Linked DNA regions of Homo sapiens: region 2 is linked to region 1. Evidence: fine-mapped expression QTL. Tissue or cell type: whole blood. Region 1 holds a variant in brackets; the other region holds the start of a gene. All regions are shown on one strand. Distances are from middle to middle.

Evidence for each region. PIP is the estimated chance that this variant, and not a neighbour inherited with it, causes the effect.
Region 2: ZFP82 starts here. The variant in region 1 is fine-mapped to the expression of ZFP82 in whole blood (TOPMed, PIP above 0.99).

The regions. Positions count from the first base shown.
Region 1 is chr19:36,363,036-36,371,139 of GRCh38, reverse strand. ZFP14 (ZFP14 zinc finger protein) reads left to right here. Exons shown (of 5, transcript NM_020917.3): 2 at 3,169-3,256. The coding sequence starts at 3,248. Among named protein-coding and RNA genes, the nearest start is that of ZFP14, 12 kb to the left of the region's middle. The variant T/C (reference allele first, on the strand shown) is at 3,098.
Region 2 is chr19:36,414,391-36,422,494 of GRCh38, reverse strand. It overlaps ZFP82 (ZFP82 zinc finger protein), which reads left to right and starts at 3,851. Exons shown (of 5, transcript NM_133466.4): 1 at 3,851-4,003. It also overlaps the pseudogene ACOT4P1. RefSeq lists enhancers at 110-792, 4,323-4,482.

The sequences.
Region 1 (8,104 bases):
GGCACCCACCAGCATGCCCGCCTAATTTTTTTGTATTTTTTAGTAGAGATGGGGTTTCACCGTGTTAGCCAGGATGGACTCGATCTCCTGACCTCGTGATCCGCCTGCCTCGGCCTCCCAAAGTGCTGGGATTACAAGTGTGAGCCACTGTGCCCAGCCTGTTTTAATTCTTTATCAGGCAGTTCAGACATCTCCATTTCTTTAGAGTCAATCACTGGCACTTTATGTTGTCCTATTGACGATGTCATGTTTCCCTGATTGTTGTTGATCTTTGTGACCGTGCACTGATGTCTGCACACTTGAAAGGACTGTGTATTTATTCCAGTCTTTGCAGAATGAGGTTCATCTGGGAAAGCCCATCAATAGCCCATGCAGTGGTTCTGGGCAGCCTGTCTGGTTTGGTCCTTAAGGCTGGGGCTGCTACGGTGGGTATAGTGCTGGGATGCTCCAAAAGGCTGGAACCACATTCTCTGGTGTTGCACATAGCATGCCCCAAGCCCAGGGCCACTCTGGCTGGTGCAGTGCTGGGGCACGCTCAAAGCCTGAGACCACTGTGACTGGTGCCATACTGTTATGTGCCTGATTGCAGAGGCCACTGAGGCTTGCCTGTTGCTAAGGGCTGTTGGAGCCCAGGGCCTCTGATGTCAGCCTGATGGTGGTGGCAGCCTGGAGATGGAGTTCATCATGCAAGCCTGAAGCCTGGGCTGCATGATCTTTCCTGATGCCAGAGCAGGTCTAGAGGGTCAGTCTGTGGCTACTGGCCTGGAGTCTGGGGTTGGGAGTCTCCCTGTTGCTGGGTTTTACTATGGCGGGCCTGGTGTTAGGGAACAGGCAAAGTTCTGTGCTCACTTCCCTGACTTTTCCCCAAGTGGGCAATACCTCTGTCTACACTGTGCTGCCTTGAGCTGGGGAGGGGTGACATGGGTAATGTCGAGCCGTCCTTCCTGCACTCTTCAATGCTTCTTTTCTTATTATTGTGCTACAACCCAGTACTGCGATCTCTCACCTGGTTGCCTTAGCTATTGTGAAGGCATTTTTGTTGATGGATAATTGCTCAAACTGATGTTTCTGCAGGTGGACCATAGATGGAAAGAACTATTTTGCTATCTTCTGAGATTTAGCATTTTTTGAAAGATTATTAGCTGGGCATGGTGGTGCCCAACTATAGTCCCAACTGCTTGGGAATCTGAGGTGGGAGGATTGCTTGAGCCCGGGAGGTCGAGGCTGCTGTGAGCCAAGATCATGCCACTGTAGTCCAGCCTGGGTAACAGAGTGAGACCGTGTTTTTGAAAAAACAAAACAAAACAAAACCTACTGTTAGTTATTCCTCTTTTTTTTAGTGAATTGCTGATGATCAGATTTCTCCTGGTGAAGTAGAAATCCTTGCTTCAGAGACAAATACCTGAGTTGAAAGAGAAACTGGCTTTTAGGCTGGGTGTGGTGGCTCACGCCTGTAATCCCAACATTTTAGGAGGCTGAGGCGGGTGGATCAATTGAGGTCAGGAGTTCGAGACCAGCCTGGGCAACATGGTGAAACCCTGTCTCTACTATAAATATAAAAATTAGCCGGGCGTAGTGGCAGGCGCCTGTAATCCCAGCTACTTGGAAGACTGAGGCAGGAGAAACGCTTGAACCCTGGAGGCAGAGGTTACAGTGAGCCATGGTCATGCCACTGCAGTTCAGCCTGGGTGACAGAACAAGGCTCTGTCTGCAAAAACAAACAAAAAAAACAAAACCAAAAAAAGAAAAAAGAAACGGGCTTTTTAGTTAGAGAAATGTAGATTCAAAACAAATGTTGGCAACTTAACTGATTTGACCCCTGGGCATTAGTTTCCTGAGCTATTAAAAGGAGAGCACTACATTGCAGAACAGTACCGAGGACAACTGACAATGTGTATGAAGTACCCAACACATAGAGGTTCTCAATGAATATTGTTGACCAACTGCAGGAATCATGAATCCCTTCTGTCCCCAGCTTGGATACTAAAAGGAAAGTGGGGCCGGGCACGGTGGCTCACGCCTGTAATCCCAGCCCTTTGGGAGGCCGAGGCGGGCGGATCACCTGAGGTCAGGAGTTCAAGACAAGCCTGGTCAACATGGCGAAACCCCGTCTCTACTAAAAATATAAAAATATAAAAATTAGCTGGGCGTGGTGGCATGTACCTGTACTCAGGAGGCTGAGGCAGGATAATCACTTGAACCCGGGAGATGGAGGTTGCAGTGAGCTGAGATCGTGCCATTGCACTCCAGCCTGGGTGACAGAGTGAAATTCCATCTAAAAAAAAATTAATCAATAAAAGAGAAGGAGTGGTGAAGGATGTCATGGTATGGGAGGCCCTGATTGGAAAACTGGAGTGGCGAGCTTTCCTGGCTGGGGAAGGCAAGGGTAGCCTCACATTGGCAGAAGCTGCCAGGTTCAATCTGTGTGGTCTTTTAGTTGCTGTGTTTAGGTAGTTCAGGCAGGATTCTAGGGGCAGGATTCAGGGCCCTTCTCAGTCCTGAAAAGTTGTCCTAGAGTGAGGAGGAGCTGCTCAGAACAAATCTGAGTAATCCAGTGTCTGGACCAGATCCACATTGCTAGAGGGCGACCTGGTCAGAAATCCTCTTGCAGAAGTAGCTAGGCTTCTACACCAAGTTCATCATTTGTCACCTATTTCTTCAGAGCTTGTATTTCTTTCTTTTTTGCTCTTGTTGCCCAGGCTGGAGTGTAATGGCGCAATCTCAGCTCACCGCAACCTCCGCCTCCTGGGTTCAAGCGATTCTCCTGCCTCAGCCTCCCGAGTAGCTGGGATTACAAGCATGTGCCACCACGCCCAGCTAATTCTGTATTTTTAGTAGAGGCAGGGTTTCTGCATGTTGGTCAGGCTGGTCTCGAACTCCCGACCTCAGGTGCTCCAACTGCCTTGGCCTCCCAAAGTGCTGAGATTACAGGCGAGAGCCACCGTGCCCGGCCAGAGCTTGTTTCTCTTTAGACTCCCTATACTTTTCCCCAGTTATATGTGGGTATAGGATAGGGATGGGCATAGTGGTGGGTGGTACTTTGGAAAAGCCAATGGAAGTAGTTTGGGAGAAGGAATGGAAGAGAAAAAAGTTTTCA[T/C]ATTTATGATGTACATCATTTTGGGAGCTCTGTGGCGCAGCTTATTTCATGGTTTCTTTTTCTTCTTTCAGCTCTGGCTTATCAGGACTCCATAGTTCTCCAACAGAGAAATCTTGAAAAGGACTGACCAGTTTTTGCAGTTCTAAAACCATGGCCCATGTAAGTTAATGTTTCTCTGTCCTTTTCGAAATACTGTCAATTTCTGTATCATGTATATAGATTCATTCTTTATTCTGAAACTTCCTGCTTACCAGAGCTTCATCCAAGAACCTGCTCCATGGCTGGACGCAATGGCTCACGCCTGTAATCCCAGCACTTTGGGAGGCCGAGGCAGGCGGATCACTTGAGGTCAGGAGTTCGAGACCAGCCTGGCCAACATGGTGAAACCCTGTCTCTACTAAAAATACAAAAATTAGCCAGTGTGGTGGCAGGCGCCCAGGAGGCTGAGGCAGGAGAATTGCTGGAACCCGGGAGGTAGAGGCTGCAGTGAGCCGAGATTGCGTTACTGCACTCCAGCTGGGGCGACAGAGCAAGACACCATCTCAAAAAAAAAAGAACCTACTCCAGTTCTTTTCCCTCCTGTGAGGATTGGGACAGATAGCCCAGTATCCTATGTGGCTATCTCTTCTCCCACTAATGTTGAGCATCTCCTACCTACAAAATCTTCTGTCAATAGCTGTGAGAAAGCGGAAATGAGATGCCTTGAGAAAATTGAAGGCATTCTCTGCAGAATGTCCTCCTGTTAACATCTTCCAGTGGAACCGCTTTTCATTTTAAAACTTAAACTCCAGAAAAAGTATATTTTTCTCAGTACAGTGCTTTTTGTCTTAGTTTTACATAGAAAAAATAGGTGTCCCCAATACATAATATGACATTTTTTTTTTTTTTGAGACAGAGTTTCACTCTTATCACCCAGGCTGGAGTGCAGTGGCATGATCTCGGCTCACTGCAACCTCCACCTTCTGGGTTCAAGCAATTCTCCTGCCTCAGCCTCCCAAGTAGCTGGGATTACAGGTGCCCGCCACCATACCTGGCTAATTTTTGCATTTTTAGTAGAGATGGGATTTCACCATGTTGGACAGGATTGTCTTGAACTCCTCATCTCAGGTGATCTGCCTGCCTCGGCCTCCCAGAGTGCTAAGATTACAGGTATGAGCCACTGCACCTGGCCACAATATGACATTTTTAAAACGTTTTTGAAATTTTTTGTGGAGGAATGACATATATACAAAAAAATATACAAACCATAAGTGTATGGCTGGATGAATTTTCATAAATTGAGTACATCTATGCTATCAGGTCAAGAAAGGAAATCACCTCAGATGCTTTCAGTCACTCCCCACCCACCTACTGCCCAGGGTAACCACTGTCTTGATGTCGAACACTATAATGTAATTTTGCTTATTTTTGGAACCTTGTTCAAGTGGGGCAGGTGTGGTGGCTCATGCCTGTAATCCCAGTACTTGGGGAGGCTGAGGTGGGCAGATCGCTTAAGCTCAGGAGTTCCAGACCATCCCGGGCAACAAGGCAAAACCGTGTCTCTACAAAAAATACAAAACCTAGCTGGGCATGGTGGCACACCTATAGACGCAGCTACTCAGGAGGCTGAGGTGGGCGAATGACTAGAGCTCGGGAGGTGGAGGTTACAGTGAACCGAGATCGCACCATTGCACTCCAGCCTGGATGACAGAGCCAGACCCTATCTCAAAAAGACAAAACAAAACAAGAACTTTGTTCAAGTGGAATCATATAGTTCAATACAATTTTTTTTTTTTGAGACAGAGTCTCGCTCTGTCGCCCAGGCTGGAGTGCAGTGGCAGGATCTCGGCTCACTGCAACCTCCGCTTTCTGGGTTCAAGCGATTCTCCTGCCTCAGCCTTCTGAGTACCTGGAGTTACAGGCGCCCACCACCACTCCCAGCTATTTTTTGTGTTTTTTTTTGTAGAGACGGGGTTTCACCATGTCGGCCAGGCTGGTCTCAAACTCCTGACCTCAAGTGATCCACCTGCCTCGACCTCCCAAAGTGCTGAGATTACAGGCATGAGCCACCATCCACCATGACACCCAGCCTTTTTTTTTTTTTGACAGAAGGTCTCACTCAGTCACCCAGGCCGGAATGCGGTGGTATGATCCCAACTAACTGCAGCCCCGACCTCCCAGGCTCAGGTGATCCTCCCACCTCAGCCTCCTGAGTACTGGGGACTACAGGCACGTGCCACCACTCTTGGCTAATTTTTAAAATTTTTTGTAGAGATGGGGTCCCACTATGTTGCCTAAGCTGAACTCAAACTCCTGGGCTCAAGTGATTCTCCCACTTTAGCCTCCCAAAGTATTGGCATTATAGGTGTGATCCACCGCACCTGATCCAATACAATGCTTTTTTTTAAAAAACAAAAATAACATCCAGGAAAAATCTTGTTATATCCCAAATACAGTTGTTAGACCAATGGAACCATCTGCAGATGTTTTGAAATGTGTATAACTATCATTCAAGGGCATGTGTGTACCTGGTGCTGCTAGTGACTGAGGAGGTAACAGAGCACCATCCTGAGTGTCAGCCGTTCCCGCTATCACGTTCTTGTTGGAAACACTTTTCCATACTGTGCTTCACATATAGCCCTCATTTTTGTCTAGTGTAAAATGAGTTCCTAAAAGATTGGAAAAGTATTGAAGAAAATTGTGGAGAAAGAAACCAAGCAAATGAGAAAAATGAATTTAGTAAAAGAGATGATTAAAATACTAAAAGCAAAGATGTTGTGTGTGTACTGACCCACTGTGTCCCATAGTTCTATATTGGAGGAAAATGTGCAAAGCTAGTTGGAGGGATGGAATTGACATATAACTCATTATAATGCTCTGATTTCACATAATGGGAGGCCGTGTGTAGTGGCTCACGCCTGTAATCCCTCCTTTGGGAGGCCATTGCTTGAGGCCAGGAATTCAATGTTGCAGTGAGCTGTGATCACATCACTGCACTCCAGCCTAGGCAACAGCCTGGGCAACAGAGTGAGACCCTGTCAAAAAAAAAAAAAAAAAAAAAAAAAAAAAGAAAAAGAAAAAGGAAAGAAAGCAAAGAAAGAAAGAAGGAGGAAGGAAGGAAAGAAAGTAAATAAAATGATGGGAAAATAGGTACCTGGTTAATCGTTAGAATGTCTGATTTTCAGGAATGGATTACTGATGTTAAGTGGGAGGTCCCTATTTTGAGCTTTCCTTAAGATCTGTGATTTGATGAAAGAGAGAATTTGGTCTTATCTGACTGCTTATAGGGAAAACTCTAAACTTCTCCACAGATCTGAGTTTTTCAAGTATATAGGATAGGATTTAGTGTTGACTGACCTTAGTTTTTATGTATGTTGAGACCCTATACTATGTAAGGCTTTTAGGTGGATTGGGTAGGGATGTAATTGGGCCTTATAAGATAAGGCCTAAACTTTCATGTGTGCCTTGACAACTTTGTCAAGACCCTAAAGGCCTAACCATGAGTTCCCCTGCTCTTACCCGATATGCCCACACCCAGCGGGAAAGGCTTCCTACCCAGCTAGTTCTCCTATGAGCTAGACCAGTTACACCCCTCGTCGTCCTCAACCTAATGGGTTTCACCTCCCTGCTAGCCTATGGAATTATTCAAACAAGCCAATCACATACCACTGCAGGAACCAGGGAACACCTCACCTTGTTATTACTGTAAAGCCTGCCTCCCATACCCCTGCTTGTTCATGCTGTTCTTAAATGCAATCCCCTTGTGCCCCTGCGTGATGTATGATGTCCTCTCTCAGGCTCTGAATATATGCATCGAACAAATTGCTGTCAATCTCATCTGTCCAGTGTGGGCTATTTGATTGTCTTGTACTTTTTAGGGCAGGGATCCCTTCTTCACCAACAGGGTGAATAGGATGTGATCAGAATAGGACTGCAAATAGATACCTCAATCAATGGAGATTTCCTCCTGCGGAGAAGAATGCCAGGAACGAGGTCCATTGTGTATTTTTACAGGATGTGCTGGTCTAGAGCAGGATTTCTCAACCTTGGAACTATTGACTTTTTTTTTTTTTTGAGACCGAGTCTTACTCTGTCGCCTAGGCTGGAGTGCAGTAGTGTGATCTCAGCTCACTGCAACCTCCGTCTCCTGGGTTCAAGTGATTCTACTGCGTCAGCCTCCTGAGTAGCTGAGATTACAGGCTCCCACCACCACACCCAGCTGATTTTTGTGTTTTTAGTAGAGACAGGGTTTCACCATGTTGACAAGGTTGGTCTCAAACTCCTGACCTCAAGTGATCTGCCTGCCTTGGCCTCCCAAAGTGCTGGGATTACAGGCTTGAGCCACTGCACCTGGCCTGAACTATTGACATTTTGATGGGGAGTCTTTTATTGTAGGGGGCCGTCCCGTGCATTGTAGGATGTCTAACAGTGTCCCTGGCCTCTACCCATTAGATGCCTGTAACACTCACACCCTTTCCTCCGATTGTGACAACCAAAATTGTCTCCAGATATGGCCGGATGTCTTTTGGGGAGCAAAATGACTCCTCATTGAAAATGATTGATACAGGGGGCCGGGCGCGGTGGCTCACGCCTGTAATCCCAGCACTTTGGGAAGCCGAGGCGGGCGGATCACGAGGTCAGGAAATCGAGGCCATCCTAATTAACGCGGAGAAACCCCGTCTCTACTAAAAATACAAAAAAAATTAGCCGGGCGTGGTGGCGGATGCGTGTAGTCCCAGCTACTTGGGAGGCTGAGGCAGGAGAATGGCGTGAACCTGGGAGGCGGAGCTTGCAATGAGCCGAGATCACGCCACCGCACTCCAGCCTGGGCGACAGAGCGAGACTCCGTCTCAAAAAAAAAAAAAAAAAAAAAAGAAAAGAAAAGAATATGATTGATAATGGTGTCCAGGTGATATCTTTATGATATCTTCATGATTCAGTGTCCTGTAACTCAGGAACAAAAAAACAATGTTCAAGAGATGATAGATAGTGACAAGCAAGAAGATTATTCACATCCATAAAGATTAG
Region 2 (8,104 bases), 51 kb before region 1:
CCAACAATGAAAATGATGGGGCCCTGGGCCTTCTCCATTGAAATCATGCTGGGGTTCTTATACCCTCCTACAAGATCATTCTTTATATCCACGACGTCCACGAGGCCTGAGAAAGCTACCTTGATTCTCCTCAGGTCATAGCCCAATGGTGGAATGCTATTCTGCTTACAGTTTATGCCTCTGTTCCCACTGATCCCGGATCCATTGATGGAAACTGTGTCTGAGTCATTCTTCAAGAATGAGGCCATTGAGAGACAAATATCAGCTCCTAGAGAAATGCCCCAAAGCCCAGTGCCTGGGCCTTTTACCTGGGGATGTTGAAGCATGTAGCATAGGGCTTCTTCGAAGTACTCCAGGGGTATGTTGTCCACGTTCTTGGGGAGATCTTCAAAGTTATAACAAGCTAGAGCGAACGTGGCAAAGCCATGGCCAGCAAGGAGGCTGGCTCGATATTCCAACAGGCTCCCTCCATTACCAAAGATGCCAATGATCCCTAGGAAGGGTCCAGGTCCTGGCGGCAGGAAGAGCGTGGCGCGCACCCGGCCCGCGCGCACCGAATCGCTCCGCACCCCTTGTGGGAGGAAGTCGCGCTCGTGCCGCGCCTGTCACAACAGCCGTCCAGGCTCGGGGTCGTGGCCGTCCAGCACCTCCAACTCCACGATAAAGGGAATCTGTACGTCCCGCTTCAGAAAGCGCCAAAAAGGTTTCTTGGATTCCAGGGCCCAGAGCAGCCCCATGGACTCTAGCCCCCTAAAGCTGCCGCCCAGCACGGGCGCGCGCTCCAGGTCCAGCTCGCCGCGGGCGTCGGCGCAGTAGCGGAAGAGCCCAGCCTTCTCGTCGCGCAGGGACGCGCGCGCAGCGTGTCCAGCGGCTCCGAAGCCAGGCCGCGCATGGTGATGCGCACCGGCTTGTCTCGGCAGCCGCGGCCCGCGGGCTCCAGGATCAGCGTTGCTGACATCTCGGAGCTGGAGCGGGGAATCTTAAGGTCGAGGCCCGAGGCCCGTCCAAGATCGTGGCAAGTGCGCCGATTGTCCAGAGGGCGTCCGGCGTCCCCTGGTGCCGGGAGCGGCCGGTGGCTGAGCAGTCCCAGAAAGCGCCTGGGACTTTAGACCAGTTAACCCGGCGCCCTGGACTCGTCTGAGGCAAAAGGAGCCAGACTCCTCTCCTGGGTCCTCTCCTTGGGCCCCGGGGAGCGCAGACTTTTTTTTTTTTTTTTTTCCTTTTTTTAATTTTGAGACAGGGTCTCGCTCTGTCGCCCAGCCCGGAGTGCAGTGGCCGATCCATAGCTCACTGTAATCTCGATCTCACAGGCTCAAGCTATCCTCCTGCCTTGGCCTTCCGAGTATGTGGGACTACAGGCATGAGTCATCACGCCTGGCCTAAGCCATCACGCCTGGCCTGATTTTTTTTTTTTACTTGGAAAAAAATATATACTTCACTCCCACAAAGTATTATTTTAGACTCCTGCCCCGTTATTCCTAGAGAATTAAAATTTCCAAGTAAAGTAAAAACAAAAAAGTAGTGAAGACAGAAGAGTATTTAACCATATCGCTGTAGAAAATTGTATTGAATATTCTAAGGCATGTGCTTGTCCTTTTTGTGTCTGTTGGTAGAAAAAGAATAAACATTAAACTCAGCTTAGTATTTCCAAAGTAGTAAGAAACACTTTTGCACATAAGGATACTTTGGGAAACCTTGTTTCCCCCACTGTCTTTACACTGAGTGAGTAACAAGGCTCTGTAAAGACGCAGGGGAATTGGTCACTAGCAGGCAAGGCAGACATCAAGCACTGTAAGAAATCAGAGACTGACTTCAAAGAAAACTCAGCGTTTACTGATAAATTGTGTTATATTACCCCATCAATGGCTAGCCTTCATGCCATGAAAATGCATCCATGTTAATGATGTCACTGTCTTACCTAACTGCAGGTGACAGCTGCCATGACATAGAAATGACATTGAACTTAAGGAAAACACTATACTGTTGCAAAATCCTTGTTAAAACCAAACATCTTAAATGCATTTGAAGCAGCGTGTCTAAGCCACGTAAAATCAAACCCTTGATAGTTATTAGCTGGCCTTCTTCTATAAAGAAAGCTTTCTTTTTTCTTTGTGCTTATTTAATGGGGTACAATCAATTATAGACATAATTGGTGGCACAGGGAAAATAATTATTTCAAGTAGTTTTTAAACACTAGCTGTATAACTAAGAGGGACATATAAAAACAGGGATTGGCAAACTTTTTCTTTAAAGGGCCTGATAGTAAATACAGTCAATCTTCATTCACAGATTCTGAATTTGTGAATTCATCTACTTGCTAAAACTTTTTTATAAACCCAGAGTCAATATTTGCAGCACCTTTGTGGTCATTTGTGGACATCCGAAGAGCGGTGAACCTTTTTGAGTCCCTTAACAGGCATGTTCTCAGCCAAAGTCAAACAAAGTGACCCTCTATCTTCTTATTTCAGCTCTCATACTGTAAACAGGTACCCTTTTTGCAGTCCATTTAGTACCTTGGCTTCTCATATTTTTGTTTTTTGCTGGTGATTTTGCTGTTTCAAAGGGACCCCAAATGTAGTAGTACTAAAGTGCTGTTGATGTTCCTATGAATGAGAAAGCGGTCATGTGTCTTACAGAAAAAATACATGTGTTAGATAAGCTTCATTCAGGCATGAGTTATGGAGCTGTTGGCCATGAGTTCAATGTTAATGAATCAATAATATATATTAAAGTGTTTAAATAGAAACACAATAAGGCCAGGCGCGGTGGCTCATGCCTATAATCCCAGCACTTTTGGGAGGCCAAGGCGGGTGGATCACCTGAGGTCAGGAGTTTGAGACCAGCCTGGTCAACATGGTGAAACTCCGTTTCTACAAAATACAAAAATCAGCTGGGCATGGTGACATGCATCTGTATTCCCAGCTACTCTGGGGGCTGAGGCAGGAGAATTGCTGGAACCCGGGAGGCGGAGGAGGTTGCAGTGAGCCAAGATCCCACCACTGCACTCCAGCCTGGGTGACAGAGCAAGACCCTATCTCAAAAAAAAAAAAAAAAAAGAAAAAAAGAAAATAAACACAATAAAATAAGCTTATGCATTCATCGGTTGACTAAAATGTGACCAGATGCTTACAGGAAACTAACCCTGTATTTCCCCTAGAAGCAGTGGAATGGTATTCACTAATTCCGTGTTTGTAGCAAGTTTATAGACCATAACTACTGTGAATAGTGAGAACTGACTGTATTTTAGGCTGCGTGGGCCATCTGGTCTGTGTAACTACTCGAGTCTGTCCTTGTAGCTCAAATATAGCAATAGACAGTACACAATCAAACACGGCTATGTTCCAATAAAACTTTTATTTATGGACACTGAAATTTGACATGTATGATTTTCATATTTCACAAAATATTGTTCTCCTTTTCATTGTTTTTACCATTTAAAAATACAGAAATGGAAAATATAGGAACTGGCTTCCCCGAATCTCCGGAGTCACACGGTCTCAAATCCCAACAGCCACACCCAGTGAAAGAATCCCACCCAGGAGCGCGCCAGGGACAGACTCGCAGCGCCGTCCTCGCTCACAGGGCTCCCTAGTTGGCACTATAGAGAGGCGGTCGCGGGCGCCCCTCTTTAACGCGCCAGCCATCTGTCCCCGCTCCCCTCCAGGCCCTGCCGCGCCGTCCCCAGGCGCTAAGGGACTCGAAGCGCAGCCTCGCTGGGACGGACCTAGCTCCGGCTCCGGGTTCACGCAGAGCAGGGGCTGCACCAGCGAGCGGACCCTTGAGACTGGCCGCGCCTGCGCACTCCGTGAGCGCGCCCGGCCCTCCCAGCAGCCTCCGCGCGCAGCCCGTTAGGCCCCGGGGATTGTGGCGTGACCCGGCAGCGGCTTCCTCCGTTCGGGCATCGCTGTGCCTCGGGTTCGCGCCCCGAGTGAGCAGTCCTGGCCCGGAGCGTCGGTCCTGGTAATCTGTAGGAAAAGCGCTGCGGCCCAGGGGGTAAAGAGAGGTAAGCGGGGCCACTGCAGTATCGCAGAGGGGCGGGAGCCCGCGCCTCAGGCCCGGGTGTGTGTGTCGTGGGCGTGACGGGGCCGGGGCTGGGACGTGACGGAGTCTGTGCGGCTGACTTGGGTGCAGAGACTATTGTATGAGCGAAGGTTGTTGTGGCCGTGGAGTGCGTGACTGACCCCAGCATCCTCTGCCCACACCGGGCCCAGCTGCAGAGAAATGGCCCTCGGTCAGTTTCTGCACGCCAAAGACTCCCAGCAGAAACGCGCAGACTAGGCCGGACCAGGTGGCTCACATCTGTAATCCCAGAGCTCTGGGAGAGCGAGGCGGGAGGATCGCTGGAAGCCAGGAGTTCGAGACCAGCCTGGGCAGCAAAGCGAAACTCCCATCTGTACCAGAAATTTAAAAAATGAGCCGGGTGTGATGGCGTGCTCCTGTGGTCCCAGCCACTCGAGAGGCTGAGGCGGGAGGATGGCTTGAGCCTAGGAGGAGATTGAGGCTGCAGCGAGCTATGATAGCACCACTACTCTCCAGCCTGGGCAACAGCGAAACAAGGCTCAGACCCGACCTTGGGATAGGAATATTAGAACTGAACGAGCCCCCGCTCCCGCCCAGGCTTGCTCCTGGAAGGGACTCCCACACCACCTCCTCGCGGACCCGGACCCACGCACGTGCACTCACAACTCTGAAGAGTCCAGCTGCAGGTTTCAGAACCACAGCATTGCTTCCAGGAAGCTATTGTGAACTCCAGTTCTAGCCCCGGGCATCCATGACCCTGGCCTTTCTTTGATACTGGGAAGAGTTAACAACACCATCTCTCTTATGTTACTCTGGTTATGTGTGGGTGGGCGGTGGGGGCATTGTGCCCTATGCGAGGCTGGGCTGCAAGAAAAGCCTGGTTCCCTTATTAGCCAGTCCTGCCCAATTCTTTAAGAAAAGGGGTCCGAGCGGGAGGAGGAATGAATTGCTGTTGCCTGTTTAAGTCAAGGTCGAGGCGAGTGGGTGTTTCTGCTTTCTTCTGTGAAATGCATTCTTATTTCTTAGGACATGAGAATATTTGTTTCATTCTCCATAAATGTCCTGTCCATTGAGCTGATACCTAGGTCCCCTCCCGAGAGCCTGTATGCACATACCCATTTGGTAGATGTTTTTCATTACTTCTGTGGGCCTTCTTTTAATTACTATGTGTAAAGTTCTTAGAACAGTTCCTGAGACCTCGTTAGTACTTAATAAACCTTAGTTATGTATTCTTAAGTAGTGATTTGGAGCAATTCTACATCAGCCTTCTATAGATGGGGGGAAAATGAAAATACTAAGCCAATTGTGGTGAGTATTTCCTAGTAAAAAATAAATGAGCCAGATCAGATGCTTAAATAGTCTAAAACAGGAATTCTTTTTTTTTTTTTTTTTTTTTTTTTTTGAGACAGGGTCTTGCTCTGTCACCCAGGTTGGAGTGCAGTGGCACAATCTCAGCTCACTGCAACCTCCCTTTCCGTGGTTCAAGCGATTCTTATACCTCAGCCTCCCAAGTAGCTGGGATTACAGGCCTGCACCACCACACCCAGCTAATTTTTGTATTTTTAGTACAGACCGGGTTTTACCATGTTGGCCAGGCTGGTCTCAAACTCCTGGCCTCAAGTGATCTGCCTGCCTCGGCCTCCCAAAGTGCTGGAATGACAGGCATGAGCCACCGCCCCCAGCCTAGAACAGGAATTCTTTTTTTTTTTTTTTTTTTTGAGACGGAGTTTCGCTCTTATTTCCCAGGCTGGAGTGCAATGGTGTGATCCCAGCTCACCGCAACCTCCGCCTCCCAGGTTCAAGCGATTCTCCTGCCTCAGCCACCCTAGTAGCTGGGATTACAGGCATATACCACCACGCCTGCCTAATCTTGTATTTTTAGTAGAGACGGGGTTTCTCCATGTTGGTCAGGCTGGTCTTGAACTCCCGACCTCAGGTGATCTGCCCGCCTTGGCCTCCCAAAGTGCTGGGATTACAGGCATGAGCCACCGTGCCCGGCCATAGAACAGGAATTCTTAACCAGAAGTAATTTGAATTCATTTGAGGCTTTCAGGGGACCAGATACTCTTTGAAATTGTACGTAAAATTGTTATAGATATCTGTTAATATGCCACTTTTATGGGGAGAAAATATGTAATTTAATGAGATTATCAAACATGATCCATTAAGATTCAGATCTACTGGCCTAGAATCAAAGTCTGTAACCTTTGAGAATGTTTTTCAATGTTAGACACAAAATTAGTGTCTAATAGTAGGAAATGATTAAATAAGCCACACTCCATGTGATGCAGCTTTTTGCCATTAATAAATACTGTTAATTATGAGAAGGAAAAAAAGCTTGTGATCGATGTTGTCTAAGCAATAGTTTTGAACAAGATGACTCACAAAACCTTTAATCATGTATGAATCGCTCTTAATAAGCTAGAGATTTATAAAACATTTTGCAAGGATTATACATAATATAAAACTAGTTTCTTAGTGGAGAAAAAAAGATAAACTGTTGTTTACCACACTGTTCTGTCTGCTTTGGTATACTTTTACTGAATTTAGGAATGTCGCTTGATTGTGTTCATTCATAGAAGAATCTTGAGAGTGAAAATAGCCCATCGTTTTGATGAAGAACAGTTAAAGAACTGATGGGTGTTACTTATTTGTGCCACACTGTTGTTTATTTTCCCAAAACCCACTCATGTCACAGGCTTATAGAATCACAATTTTCTTAACAACTAAAAGATATTCCTTCTTCACAACTCTGTTTTTAATTCTATGTGTATGAAAATAGTTTAATTGGCTGGGCGCAGTGGCTCACGCCTGTAATCTCAACACTTGGGAGGCTGAGGTGGGCAGATCACCTGAGGTCAGAAGTTTGAGACCAACCTGGCCAATATGGTAAAACCTGTCTCTACTAAAAATAGAAAAATTAGCTGGGCACAGTGGCGCCTGCCTGTAATCCCAGCTATTTGGGAGGCTGAGGCAGAAGAATTGCTTGAACCCATGAGGCAGAGGTTGCAGTGAGCCGAGATCCTGCCATTACACTCCAGCCTGGGTGACAGAGTGAGACTCAGTCTCCAAAAAAAAAAGAAAGTCCTGGTTTAAGCTGCCAACTATATTTAGTACTATTCAGAACAGATTTTCTCCATCCCCTACCACCCAGTCATCTTCACTCTATAAGAATAAAATTTAAGTTGCCCGTAGTCTCACCATCCACAATAAATATTACTATTCTAATGTTTGCTTTTCCATTTTTTTCTGTGCACTTGTGCACATGTGTTTGTTTTCCAAAATAGAATCACAACAATTGATCATTTAAGGAGACAAAGACTCTGCAACACTTTGTTTGAAAAAGGAAAAAGAGGTTGGGCCTGGTGGCTCACGCCTGTAATTCCAGCACTTTGGGAGGCCAAGGTGGGCGGATCACCTGAGGTCAGGAGTTCCAGACCAGCCTGACTAACATGGTGAAACCCTGTCTCTACTAAAAATACAAAATTAGCCAGGCGTGGTGGTGCATGCCTGTAATCCCAGCTGCTTGGGAGGCTGAGGCATGAGGACCACTTGAACCCGGAAGGTGGAGGTTGCAGTGAGCCGAGATCTTGCCATTGCATTCCAGCCCGGGCAACAGGAGCGAAACTGTCTCAAAAAAAAAAAAAAAGTATTTAATATGATACCTTATCAAAGCAAAATTCTTGAGCTGGTTTTATGATATGGAATGGTGTCCCTTTGGAGCTACTAGGGATGGAAAGTAACAGGGGCCTTGCTCTACTTTTTGATTTCTGTGAATCCTTTTTTGATAACATTATTAAGAAGAATTACATAGGCCAGGTGCGGTGGCTCATCTCTATAATCCCAAGACTTTGGGAGGCCGAGGCAGGCAGATCACGAGGTCAGGAGATCGAGACCATCCTGGCCAACATGGTGAAACCCTGTCTGTACTAAAATACAAAAAATCAGCCGGGTGTGGTGGCATGCTCCTGCAGTCCCAGTTACTTGGGAGGCTGAGGCAGGGGAATCACTTGAACCCGGGAGGCAGAGATTGCAGTGAGCTGAGATCATGCCACTGCATTCCAGCCTGGCGACAGAGCAAGAT